2 separate regions of the Homo sapiens genome follow, and region 2 is linked to region 1. Evidence: fine-mapped expression QTL. A gene starts in region 1. The other region holds a variant in brackets. All regions are shown on one strand. Distances are between the middles of the regions. Region 1 holds the start of SLC43A2 (solute carrier family 43 member 2). Region 2 overlaps SLC43A2 (solute carrier family 43 member 2).

What was found.
Region 2: its variant is fine-mapped to the expression of SLC43A2 in blood mononuclear cells (TOPMed, PIP above 0.99).

The regions. Positions count from the first base shown.
Region 1 is chr17:1,625,750-1,631,107 of GRCh38, reverse strand. SLC43A2 (solute carrier family 43 member 2) reads left to right here and starts at 2,274. Exons shown (of 14, transcript NM_152346.3): 1 at 2,274-2,314; 2 at 3,188-3,393. The coding sequence starts at 3,234. RefSeq lists enhancers at 3,026-3,563, 3,564-4,101.
Region 2 is chr17:1,586,756-1,592,113 of GRCh38, reverse strand. It overlaps SLC43A2 (solute carrier family 43 member 2), which reads left to right. Exons shown (of 14, transcript NM_152346.3): 7 at 415-548; 8 at 643-845; 9 at 1,166-1,312. Among named protein-coding and RNA genes, the nearest start is that of PITPNA, 27 kb to the right of the region's middle. RefSeq lists a silencer at 87-252 and enhancers at 1,020-1,565, 1,566-2,111, 3,753-4,299, 4,300-4,846, 4,847-5,358. The variant T/G (reference allele first, on the strand shown) is at 2,895.

The sequences.
Region 1 (5,358 bases):
GTGTGAGCCACCGTGCCCAGCCAGGAACTGGAACTTTATCCTGTTTTACAAATAATAGTTTCTGAAGGATTTTGGCAGAAGTCACATTTACATTTCCCTTAGTGCCCTGGGATGAGATGGGGGCTGGATTTGAGGAACTGAAATCTGAAGGTGGCTCAACAACAGTAGTTGCGGGCCTAAGGGCACAGATGGACCGATTAGGTAAATATGTAGGAGATACAGCTGTATCAGTTTGATGGGGATGCGGTGAGGGAGAGGCAGAATCACAGCGACTGCCTAACAAATGTCTGATGAAAGGATGGTTCTCAGCAGGGCACTGTGAGTCATGCCTGTAATCCCTGCACTTTGGGAGGCTGAGGTGGGAGGATCACTTGAGCCCAAGACTTCAAGACCAGCCTGGGCAACAGGGCAAGACCCTATCTGTACAAAAAATACAAAAATTAGCCAAGTGTGGTAGCATGCACCTGTGGTCCCAGCTACTTGGGAGGCTGAGGCAGGAGGATCACCTAAGCCCAGGAGGTCGAGGCTGCAGTGAGCTATGATCATGCCACCACACTCCAGCAGTCTGGGTGCCTGAGATCCTGTCTCAAAAAAAAAAAAAAAAAAAGAAAAAGAAAAAAGACAGGGTTCTTGGTATCTAACTTCAGTAGACAGTAGTAGTATGGTTATCTGAGAGAAAATGTGGAGGACAGTTCTGGGGGATATTTGAGGCATGTTTGAGCCCTGCAGCGCCGTCAGGCTGCTCAAAGAGGAGGGAAGGGTGAAGAAAGAGATTTTTCAGATGGCAGTTGAAACCTTGGGAGTGGGAAGGGTTCCACAGGGTGAGGAACCGGGTAGGCTACCAGCTGGAGCCGCCCCCCAGCAGGCTGACAGCTCCAAGCGTTGTCTGGGGGAGGTTGCCCTCGCCAGGTGGCCCGGGCGGATTCTAGACAGTAGGGGGCACACTCGGACTGGGGCAGGTGGAGCAAGAGGCGTTTGGGGCTCCCACAGCCCTGGGGTGGTGGTGGGGTTTTATTTTTGGTTTTTATTTTGGTAGAGATGGTTCTCGCCATGCTGCCCAGGCTGGTCTCAAACTCCTGTCCCCAAGTGGCCCTCCGACCTTAGCCTCCCAAACCGCTGGGATTCCAGACGTGGACACCGCGCGGCAGCCCTGGGGTGCTAAGCCAGCCCCCCGGAGCGAGCCAGGGTGACCAAGGCGATTCTGGGGCAGTCAGAGGGTCTTCCCGGGTCGGGTTAGTGCCTCGAATCCGGGGGACGAAGACGGGGAGCTGAGCTTTCGGAGCCCGGGCTTATCAGACGGGGACCCGGAGCCCCCTCGAACCCTCCCTAGCTTGTACCAGCTGGCGGACGTGGCCCGTAGCATCGCCCTGCAGAGGGGACCTTCCCTGAAAGGGACGGGGAACGGGGTGAAGGTGGCCAGCGCGGGCAGGGAGCACCCAGATGACGATCAAGGGTGGAGGGTCCCCGGAGGACCGAGCAGTGCGTGAACACGGGCGGAGAAAGGTCAGTCTGATGGGGGGAGCTCAGGAGACCCCATCCTAGGACGGGACAGACCAGCCCCAAATCCCCTTGCAGATTTCCAAGGGCCAACTTCCAGGGACCGGGCAGACGCCACCGGGGAGAGGGGAAGGGGTCGGTGCATCAGCGGGGGGCGCCACGGCTGGACCGGGTCCGGGATCCCAGGCCCCGAATACGCCGGGACGGGAACCACCGGGGCGGGGGAGCGAGGAACCAGGACCCAAAGCCCGAGGCGGCGGGGACGGCGGCGCTGCGTGGGGAGGAGGCGGGGTGGGGATTCGAGAGTGGAACCACCGTGCGGAGCCGGCGCATCTGGGCGTGGTGACCCGCGCGCAGGGGGCAGCTGGGGACGGCGGGGCGGCCGCGGGAGAGCCCGGCTGGGGGCGCTGGTGGCCCGGCGGCTTCTGGGGGGAGTCCGCTGGGGGCCGGGACGCGGAGCCGGAGCCCCAGCCTCGCAGGGTCAGGCCGCTGGAGAGGCCGCGGGGCGATGTCGCCGGGGATTCCCGGCCGCGCTGTGACTCGGGTTGAAGGCTGCAAAGCCGAGGCCCGGCCCGCAGCGCCCAGGCCCCTCCCGTCCCCCATCTCTCTTGTTTGTCTCCGAGTCCGGCCGGAACCGGCTTCTGCTCGCGGCGGGGCGGGCGGGGGGCTGGCTGCTGATTGGTCGACGCCTGTTTCCAGCCCCGCTCAGCCAATCAGCGGGCGGCAGTGTTTTCTTCTTGGGGTCGGAATAAAAGGGCTGGAATAAAAGAGGGCAGAAAAGGCGCCGGGCGGGCCCGACACACGCCGGAGGAGCCGGGTGAGCTGCAGCAGGGAGGGGATCGCGGCCGGGGCGAGGGCGCGGGGGCAGAAGCGGCCGCCGAAGGGGCGTAGGGAGAAAACGTGGGAACGAGGAGAGAGATGGAGCGATGAGGGGCCGCCAGGGAAGAGATGACGAACAGATGCGGGCTGGGGAATGGAGGCGCGGGGGTCCGAGGCCATGGAAACGGGCGAGTTGCCGGGGGAACGCCCGAGATGGGGGTCGCGCGGCTGGCTCGCGCCACCGGTTTGAACCGGCTCCTCGTCTCCCACGCTGGGTTCGCGTGGCCGCAGCGCCTAGCGACCTAGACGGCGGCCAATGGCGCGGCAGTTCCTGCGCCGTCCGGCCAATGAGCGCGCCGGGGCGGGCCGTTCCGTAGGTCTGGGCGCTGATCTTGTGGTTGAAGAAACCAGCTCTGGGGAAGGGTCTCGGGCGCGGGCGGGAGGGCACCTGTCAGGGTCCCTGGGAGAGGCAGCCCTCGGATCTGCCCCTGCCCACCTCACGCTGCGTTCCATGCTGGCCCCAGGCGATGTCAGTCCTGCTGCAGGCCAGGACTAGTTCCACGGCCCTGAGCATGCGTTAGCCCCTTCTTGCCTCCATGCCTCAGTTTACCTCGGAGTGAGCTGCGGGAGACGTCTCCCTGCCTGGCCGGGGCGGCTCTGTCGTAGCGGAGGGCAGCGGTACGAGCCGGCCGCGGGCTCGGGGTGTCCCAGGTCCGGGCAGGGCTGGGGTTCGCTTCCTCTGCTGCGCGCACCGGCCGCCGCGGCCGGGGAGGGGTGGCAATCCCGAGCCCTGCGGCAGCGGTCGGGGCTGCTGGGGGCGGCCGCAGGGGCTGGGCAAGGGCCGGCCGCTGACGCCGAGTTCTGTGCGCAGGTGGTGCAGAGCCGGAGCCGGAGCCGGAGCCGCGCCGCGCCGCACCATGGCGCCCACCCTGGCCACTGCCCATCGGCGCCGCTGGTGGATGGCCTGCACGGCCGTGCTGGAGAACCTCCTCTTCTCGGCAGTCCTCCTGGGCTGGGGCTCGCTGCTCATCATGCTCAAGTCAGAGGGCTTTTACTCCTACCTGTGTACCGAGCCAGGTGAGACAAGCGCCTGGGGTTGCGGGGGGCTCCTGGAGCTGGGGCTTTGGGAGGGGGCGGGATGGGGGCGAAGACCTAGCGAGCCACAGCACCGCATTGCCCAGTGCCTCTAGGGTATCAGAAGGCCCATCTGATCCTCACCCAGCCCTGCCGGGTACTTGTCATTGCCCCTGTTTTGTGGACGAAGACATCGAGGCTCAGAGCGATCTGTCTTGCGCAAGGCCGCAGAGCCTGGGCCTGCCATCCACCCAGAACCCCACCTGCTGTCCAGGGTGTTCCTTCCACCCGCTACGAACAGTGCTGGACTGCTCTCCTCTCCTCCCAGCCCTGGAACATAGCTTGGCTGGTAGTAAACATGTTGCTGTCTGCTTGTGAGAAAGAGGAACTCCAGATTAAGGGGCTGGGGTGCAGCAGGAGAGGAAGTGGCCTTGCCTCCACCCCAGGGAGGGCTCATCTAGAATCTAGACGTTCCTCAGGCCATTGTGGAGTCTCCTAAGTGCTTGCTGGACACAATTTCTTGTCTATTTTTGCTGCCTTATGATTCTCCAAAGGACATTTCCCCCACGGGCTCTGAGGACATCTCCGTGGCTTTCCAACCCCATGGGGATGAAGGGGAAGAGAAGAAAGGAACGTTTATGGAAATGATGCTAGGGTTGTTCTCTCCTCTTTGCCTTGTCACTGGAATTGCTGAAGGCAGGCTGAGGATGCTTCTCTACATGACATCTGCACCACCCAACACACACTTACCTTCACACCTTCATACCCTGTTGGAGGGTCCTGATGACTACAGGGCAGTAAATTCAGCCCCACAGGAGGGCCACAGCAGCCCCCAGCCTCTAGCCTCCTACCCTCCTTCTTAGGCAACCTTGACAGGAAATTTTCCCTCTGCCTTCTCCTTGATCCCAACGGTAGCTGCATAATAGCTGAGCTCACATAATCCCTGTCGCCAGTGCTAGAGTGCCCTTAGATGGAGGTAGCCCAGGTTTGACTTCCTGAATCCCCAGCAGCAGGCCTTTTCTTTCTAGAGCTCTTTGCAGGAAGAGAAAGCTTTGGACCAGCTCATGCTGGGTGTAATCCTTTGTGGAAGCCTCCCTGTTTCCCTTCTCTGATCTGCCCCGGAGATTCCTGTGTGTCCCAGTCTCTAGGGAGGGAGGCTTAGCTGGAGAGGTTCAGGGCAGGAGAAAGCAGGAGAATGCAGAGGCCGCGGGGAGAGGACAGAAAGTATATCATTTATAACTAACCTTTAGCCTTTAGCCACTCAAAAATATTTCCTAATAGCCTAAGGGTTCTTGGCAGGTCTTTCCCCACATCAGCAAGAAATCTTGGGAGTTGGGAAGAGTCAGACCTTGTTCCCTGAACAAGCTTTCTGCTTTGGCCAAGAGTTGTTAGGAGATTAATGCCTGTCCCCGAAAGGCACAGGTTGGAGTGTTTACTTCTTCCTCTCCTTTCCTCTCTCCCCCCTTAGAGATCGTGACCCTTCCTGCTTGCCTCCCTGGTGGGCTCTTTCAGGCTGGACACAGGGTTTAAAAAAAAAAAAAAAAAGCAGAAAAAAAGTCATCGTCCCCAGAGAAAGCTTTTAGTGTCTCACCCAGACCAGAGAACTGTTGTGGGCAGGTGTTTTTTTGTGTGTTTTTTTTTTAACCCACCATGATGTCGGAAGGTCAGATTCTAGGTGTTTTTTGTTTGTTTTTTGTTTTTTGTTTTTTTTTAATAGAATGTCCACGGATTTAATTGATTGTATGGTTTTGGCAGAATTGGGTCTGGTCCTTTCATTCCTGCCTCAACCTCAGCTTCCTCCTCTGTCTAAGTGGGAGGAGTCCCAGAGATTGTGCCAGCGCAGTGCTGAGTTGGTGTTTTAAGCCCTGGGCAGACTTGACAGGTAACTCCACTAAACCAAAGTGAAGGTGAAGGGTCAGGATTGTGGGTTGAACATCAACTTCTTATCCCGAACTTTTGCTCCTGCCT
Region 2 (5,358 bases), 39 kb after region 1:
GCTCTCAGAGGCACTGGGGAAGCATCAGTGGACGGGGCTGGCCGGTTCCCGCCTTCAGGGAGCTCCGCTAATACCAGACAAGCCGACGGACCAGGAGCACCGTCCCCTCTGCTGGGCCGATCACTATGAGCCTGCAAGACGTGCCGTGGTCATGGCGGGGCGGTCAGGAAGGCCTCCGAGTCGGGGGGCTAATCACACGCCAGGCCCAGATGACCAGCAGGGCAGGCACGGTGGGAGGACTGGAAGGCGGGTGCCTGATGCCCCAACGCCCAGGCTGGCAGGGCTGTGCCTCTTTGCGCGGCTCAGCACAGGGACAGCAGGGGTGGCCAGACGCCCCTGCCTGCTGCGGCTCTGGCCTCCCCGGGCTAACTCTGCCCCCTCCCCCCCCCACCCCGTCCCCGCGGTGCCTGTCAGCTCATCTATGATGCTGGTGTCTCCTTCATCGTCGTCCTCGTGGTCTGGGCCGGCTGCTCCGGGCTGGTTTTCCTCAACTGCTTCTTTAACTGGCCCCTTGAGCCCTTCCCGGGGCCGGAGGACATGGACTACTCGTAAGTAGAGGTGCCCCCGTCCCGCCTGCCCCCAGCCCCCGCCCCCCAGCCGGGGTCCCGGGCAGCACCCACAGACACTCTCCCGGGGCCCCAGGGTGAAGATCAAGTTCAGCTGGCTGGGCTTTGACCACAAGATCACAGGGAAGCAGTTCTACAAGCAGGTGACCACGGTGGGCCGGCGCCTGAGTGTGGGCAGCTCCATGAGGAGTGCCAAGGAGCAGGTGGCGCTGCAGGAGGGCCACAAGCTGTGCCTGTCCACCGTCGACCTGGAGGTGAAGTGCCAGCCGGATGCCGCAGGTACCCGCCTGAGACCGCAGCCGGGCGACGGGCAGGGAGTGCTCTGTGGGTATCGGCTCACCCCATTCCCACCTCACCCCAAAAGGGGAGGCGGCCCCGCCCGCCCTGTTCTGCAGAGGCGCTCAGGAAGGCCTGGGGGAGGGAAAGGGATTTGCCTGATTTCACCCAAGAGGTGACCCCACCGCAGCGCCAACCCCGTTACCCTCACCAGGCCCGTCCCGAGGGCCCCCTCCTGGCCTCCAGCGTGGAGGGATCTGCGTGTCCCCCCGGTGGTGGGGACAGTGTGCCCCGGCCCTGAGCCCCGCACCCTCTCCCTGCAGTGGCCCCCTCCTTCATGCACAGCGTGTTCAGCCCCATCCTGCTGCTCAGCCTGGTCACCATGTGCGTCACGCAGCTGCGGCTCATCTTCTACATGGGGGCTATGAACAACATCCTCAAGTTCCTGGTCAGCGGCGACCAGAAGACAGGTAGGTGCCCCGGGCAGCCTCGGTCGCTGTCACTCCCCGGCCTGAGCCCAGCCCACTGGCCACCGGCCAGAATGTGTTAAGCTGAGCCGGGCCAGCCGGGCCATGGAAAGGCCGCATCCCAGGAGCTGTCTGCCCGTCAGAGCTATTGCATCACTGCCAGCCCCAACTGTTTCTTCGTGTCCCCATCAGGGTTTCCTGGTCCAGGAGGGAGGGAAGGACCAAAATAGCCTCCTGGGTGTGGGGTGTGGGGTGTGTGTTTTCCAGTGCCTGAGGGGGAGGGTTGCCGTGTGTGTCTGTAAATGAAAACAGAACAGAACGCTCCACCTGAGCATGGCTGAAAGACAGCAGGTCAAGCCCAAAGTCCTCCCAGAAAGTGGCACGGTGGGTGCGTGGACACCCTGGGCATCGAGGTCAGGACGGGGCTGGAGACGCTGGGGCAACTGGCCCACACTGGGATCTGCATCCCTCACCGAGAAACAGGGCAGGGCAGAGACTTCCTCGGAGCTTGCGAACAGTTGAGGCTTGTCAGCTCCAACAAACACAGCTGATAACCCACAGTCCACTTTTCCAAACAGGGCAGGTCTTCAGCTGATTAGAGGTTTTGATTCTACAGAGAAAGTCAGGACTTCCCCGGGGCCTGAGCTGAGTCAGCCTTAGTCATCCCCAGGCGGGACAAACACTCCAAATCCTTTTTATTGGCAGCCTCCCTGGTGTGCCACTTTTTCCGATGGTTTCCTTGTTTTTATCAAGGTGAAGATACCCTAGGACTTGTGAAGAATCAGTTATCAGGTTTTTAGGGGATGAGAAATCCAGCTTTATCAAAAGGAAAAGATAGCAAAGGGAACCAGATAACAGCCAGTTCTACTGTGAAAATGGTAGTCTAGGCCAGGCACGGTGGCTCACGCCTGTAATCCTAGCCCTTTTGGAGGCTGAGGCAGGTGGATCATGAGGTCAGGAGTTCAAGACCAGCCTGGCCAAGATTGTGAAACCCCCATCTCTACTAAAAATACAAAAAATTAGCCAGGCGTGGTGGTGGGCCCCTGTAATCCCTGCTACTTGGAAGGCTGAAGCAGAGAATTGCTTGAACCCAGGAGGTGGAGGTTGCAGTGAGCCGAGATTGCGCCACTGCACTCCAGCCTGGGCGACAGAGTGCGACTCCATCTCAAAAGAAAAAAAAATATCTGTGGAACACACTTTGGGGAACCCTAATCTATCATGTCTCTTTCTTTCTTGTTTTTTTGAGGCAGGGTCTCTTTCTGCGTTGCTTAGGCTGGAGTGCAGTGATGTGAACGCTGCAGCCTTGACCTCTTAGGGCTCCCCAGGTGCGCGCCACCACACCCAGCTAATTTTTAAATTCTTTGCAGAGATAGGGTCTTGCTGTGTTGCCCAGGTTGGTGTCGAACTCCTGGGCTCAAGGGATCCTCCCCTCTTGGCCTCCCAAAGTGCTGGGATTACAGGCGTAAACCTCCACACCCAGCCTGATAAACATTCAGCCCTGGAGTGGCGGAAACCCCAAAGTGTGCAGAGAGAGCTGGTCCCTGGCCCTCGAAAGGCTCATCTCCCTGCTGCTGAGTCAGCGTCT[T/G]TTACTCAAGCTGTCTGAGAAATCTTTTGCTGCCCAGGAGGAATGTTTCCAACTGTTTCGTATGTTCAAAAAGTCAATTTCAAGAAGTAGAGGAAGCCAGGCCAGGAAGGTTGGTCTGTGGCAGACGAGGCACTGGTTTTCCCCCTCCTCCTTCTGTGACCCGTTACACCCAACACCCATAGCCCTAGCTCCGGCCGAGAGGCAGCTGCAGGGTCCGGGTCACTTTCCGCACACTCGTGAGCTTTGCGGCTCCGCAGGAGGGGGTGTGCCGTGCTGCTGAGGAACGGCTCAAAGCACCAGAGCCATCGCCTCCGCGTACGGCCCCGCGACCACCCGCGGCAGAGGCTCCCGGGTGCTGGTTCCGAATGGAGACTCCAGGCCTTGCCGCTGACCGGTGACTCTGCTGCCTCCCAGCGTTTGAGACCCGCCATCAAACAGGAGTTGCGGATTCAGGGAAACCCTAACTAGCCAGGGTGCTGGCAGCTGGGAAAAGGCCGCCTTTTTTTTTTTTTTTTTTTTTTTGAGTTGGGGTCTTGCTCTGCCACCCAGGCTGGAGTGCAGTGGTGCAACTGATAGCTCACCACGGCCTCCGACTCCTGAGCTCAAGGGATCCTCCCACCTCGGCCTCCTAAGTATCTGGGACTACAGGTGTGTGCCACCATGCCTGGCTAATTTGTTTTTTTTTTTTTTCCATAAAGACAAGGTCTTGCTATTTTTCCCAGGCTGGTCTCAAACTCCTGGGCTCAAGCAGTTCTCCCACCTCAGCCTCCCAAAGTGCTGAGATTATAGGCATGAGCCACAATGCCCAGCCAAAAATACAGTCTTTTTTTTTTGACATGGATTTTCGCTCTTGTCACCCGGGCTGGAGCACAGTGGCATGAGCTCGGCTCACTGCAACCTCCGCCTCTCGGGTTCAAGCGATTGTTCTGCCTCAGCCTCCCAAGTAGCTGGGGTTACAGGCACCTGCCACCATGCCCAGCTAATTTTTGTATTTTTAGTAGAGACGGAGTTTCACCATGTCTCCAACTCCTGACTTCAAGTGATCCACGTGCCTCAGCCTCCCAAAGTGCTGAGATTACAGGCGTGAGCCACGATGCCCAGCCAAAAAGCCAGTCTTGAGATGGGGAAGACGTGGCCCATGCTGTCCTCAGCAGTGCCCAGTCCCAGCCAAAGTGGGCACTGCTGCCTCACTCTCCCACCCACCCTCAGGGTGTGGCACTTACTGGGAAGAAGCAGGCATTGAGAAACAGAATTAAGGGGGGAAAACAGTCCAGGGCCAACAGTGCTTGGGGATTGAGGCCTGAAAATGGGAGCAGGGTACAGAGGCTGTGGCTGGCCAGATGGGTCGGGTGCCCCCTGCACCCCCACCCCCTAGTCAGGGGCCACCTGTCCTACCCTCCCTTTGTAAGAGTTGACAGGTGACATGTTTTCCTATTGTTGTCCTTGACTTGATAACAATCTAGGAGTTAAATAGATACTATCATCTGTTTACGTCATCATTTATGATAGATACTATCATCATATACACCTGAAAAACGAGGCCTGGAGTGATGGAGGAGCTTGTTCAAGGTCAGAGCCAGCACTCACATATGGGTCTTAAGACACTGGAGCAGCCAAGGGCCTCTAGACCAGGACATTCCACTCGGAGCAGCAGCTCAGGGGCCACCAGGCCTCTGTGGCAGGGGGGCCATGGCCCAAGGAAGGGGAGCAGGCCCAGGCATGGTCCCCGTTTCTTGGAGTGGAAGGGAGACCAGCTCTGGCCATCTGGAGGAGACCCATGGTGTCAGATGCCTTGGCTGGGCATCAGGGGCAGGTTCTTTGACCTTTCCCTCTCTCTGAGCACAGCAGGAGGTAGATGTGACAGAGCCGCTTCCCGCAGGCAGTGTGGTGACAGGGACCCTGATTGCACCAGGTCTTCCGCATGCCCGCCACTTCCCCATCACGCTACCCGCCAACGTCACAGGCCTGATTCACCAGTCCGCCTGTGACCCGGCACCAGCAGACAGGAGAATGTCAGCAGGGGCCCGGGCTGGGCATTGTCCCAAGTCCACTTCCAGAGGCCTGGCTGCAGCTCTGCCTCCCCTGAGCGCCCCGAGTCACGCTTAGTGGGAAATGCAGTGCGGGAAACGCAGTGTGGGAAATGCAGTGCGTGCTGGGCATGGAGTGAGCCTGCCTCCTCTCCCATCTCTCTGTAGCACTGAGATTTCTGCCACTAACCTCTCTTCTTTCTGCTTTTTCACTTTTGCTTTCTTGATGCAGTGATGGCCACGGGTAAGCGGGGGGTGGGGGGGATTGTCAGGGAATGCTGTGATGTCCCCTCCCAGCCAGTCTCTGTTCAACCCAGAAGCTCCTCACCTCAAGCTCCAGACATGCCTCCTGGCTAGAGCCGTGGGGGTAAAACTGGGGCAATCAACATTCCTCGTCTGCTTCCCTGGAAAATCCACTGTCATTTTAAGTCTTTGAA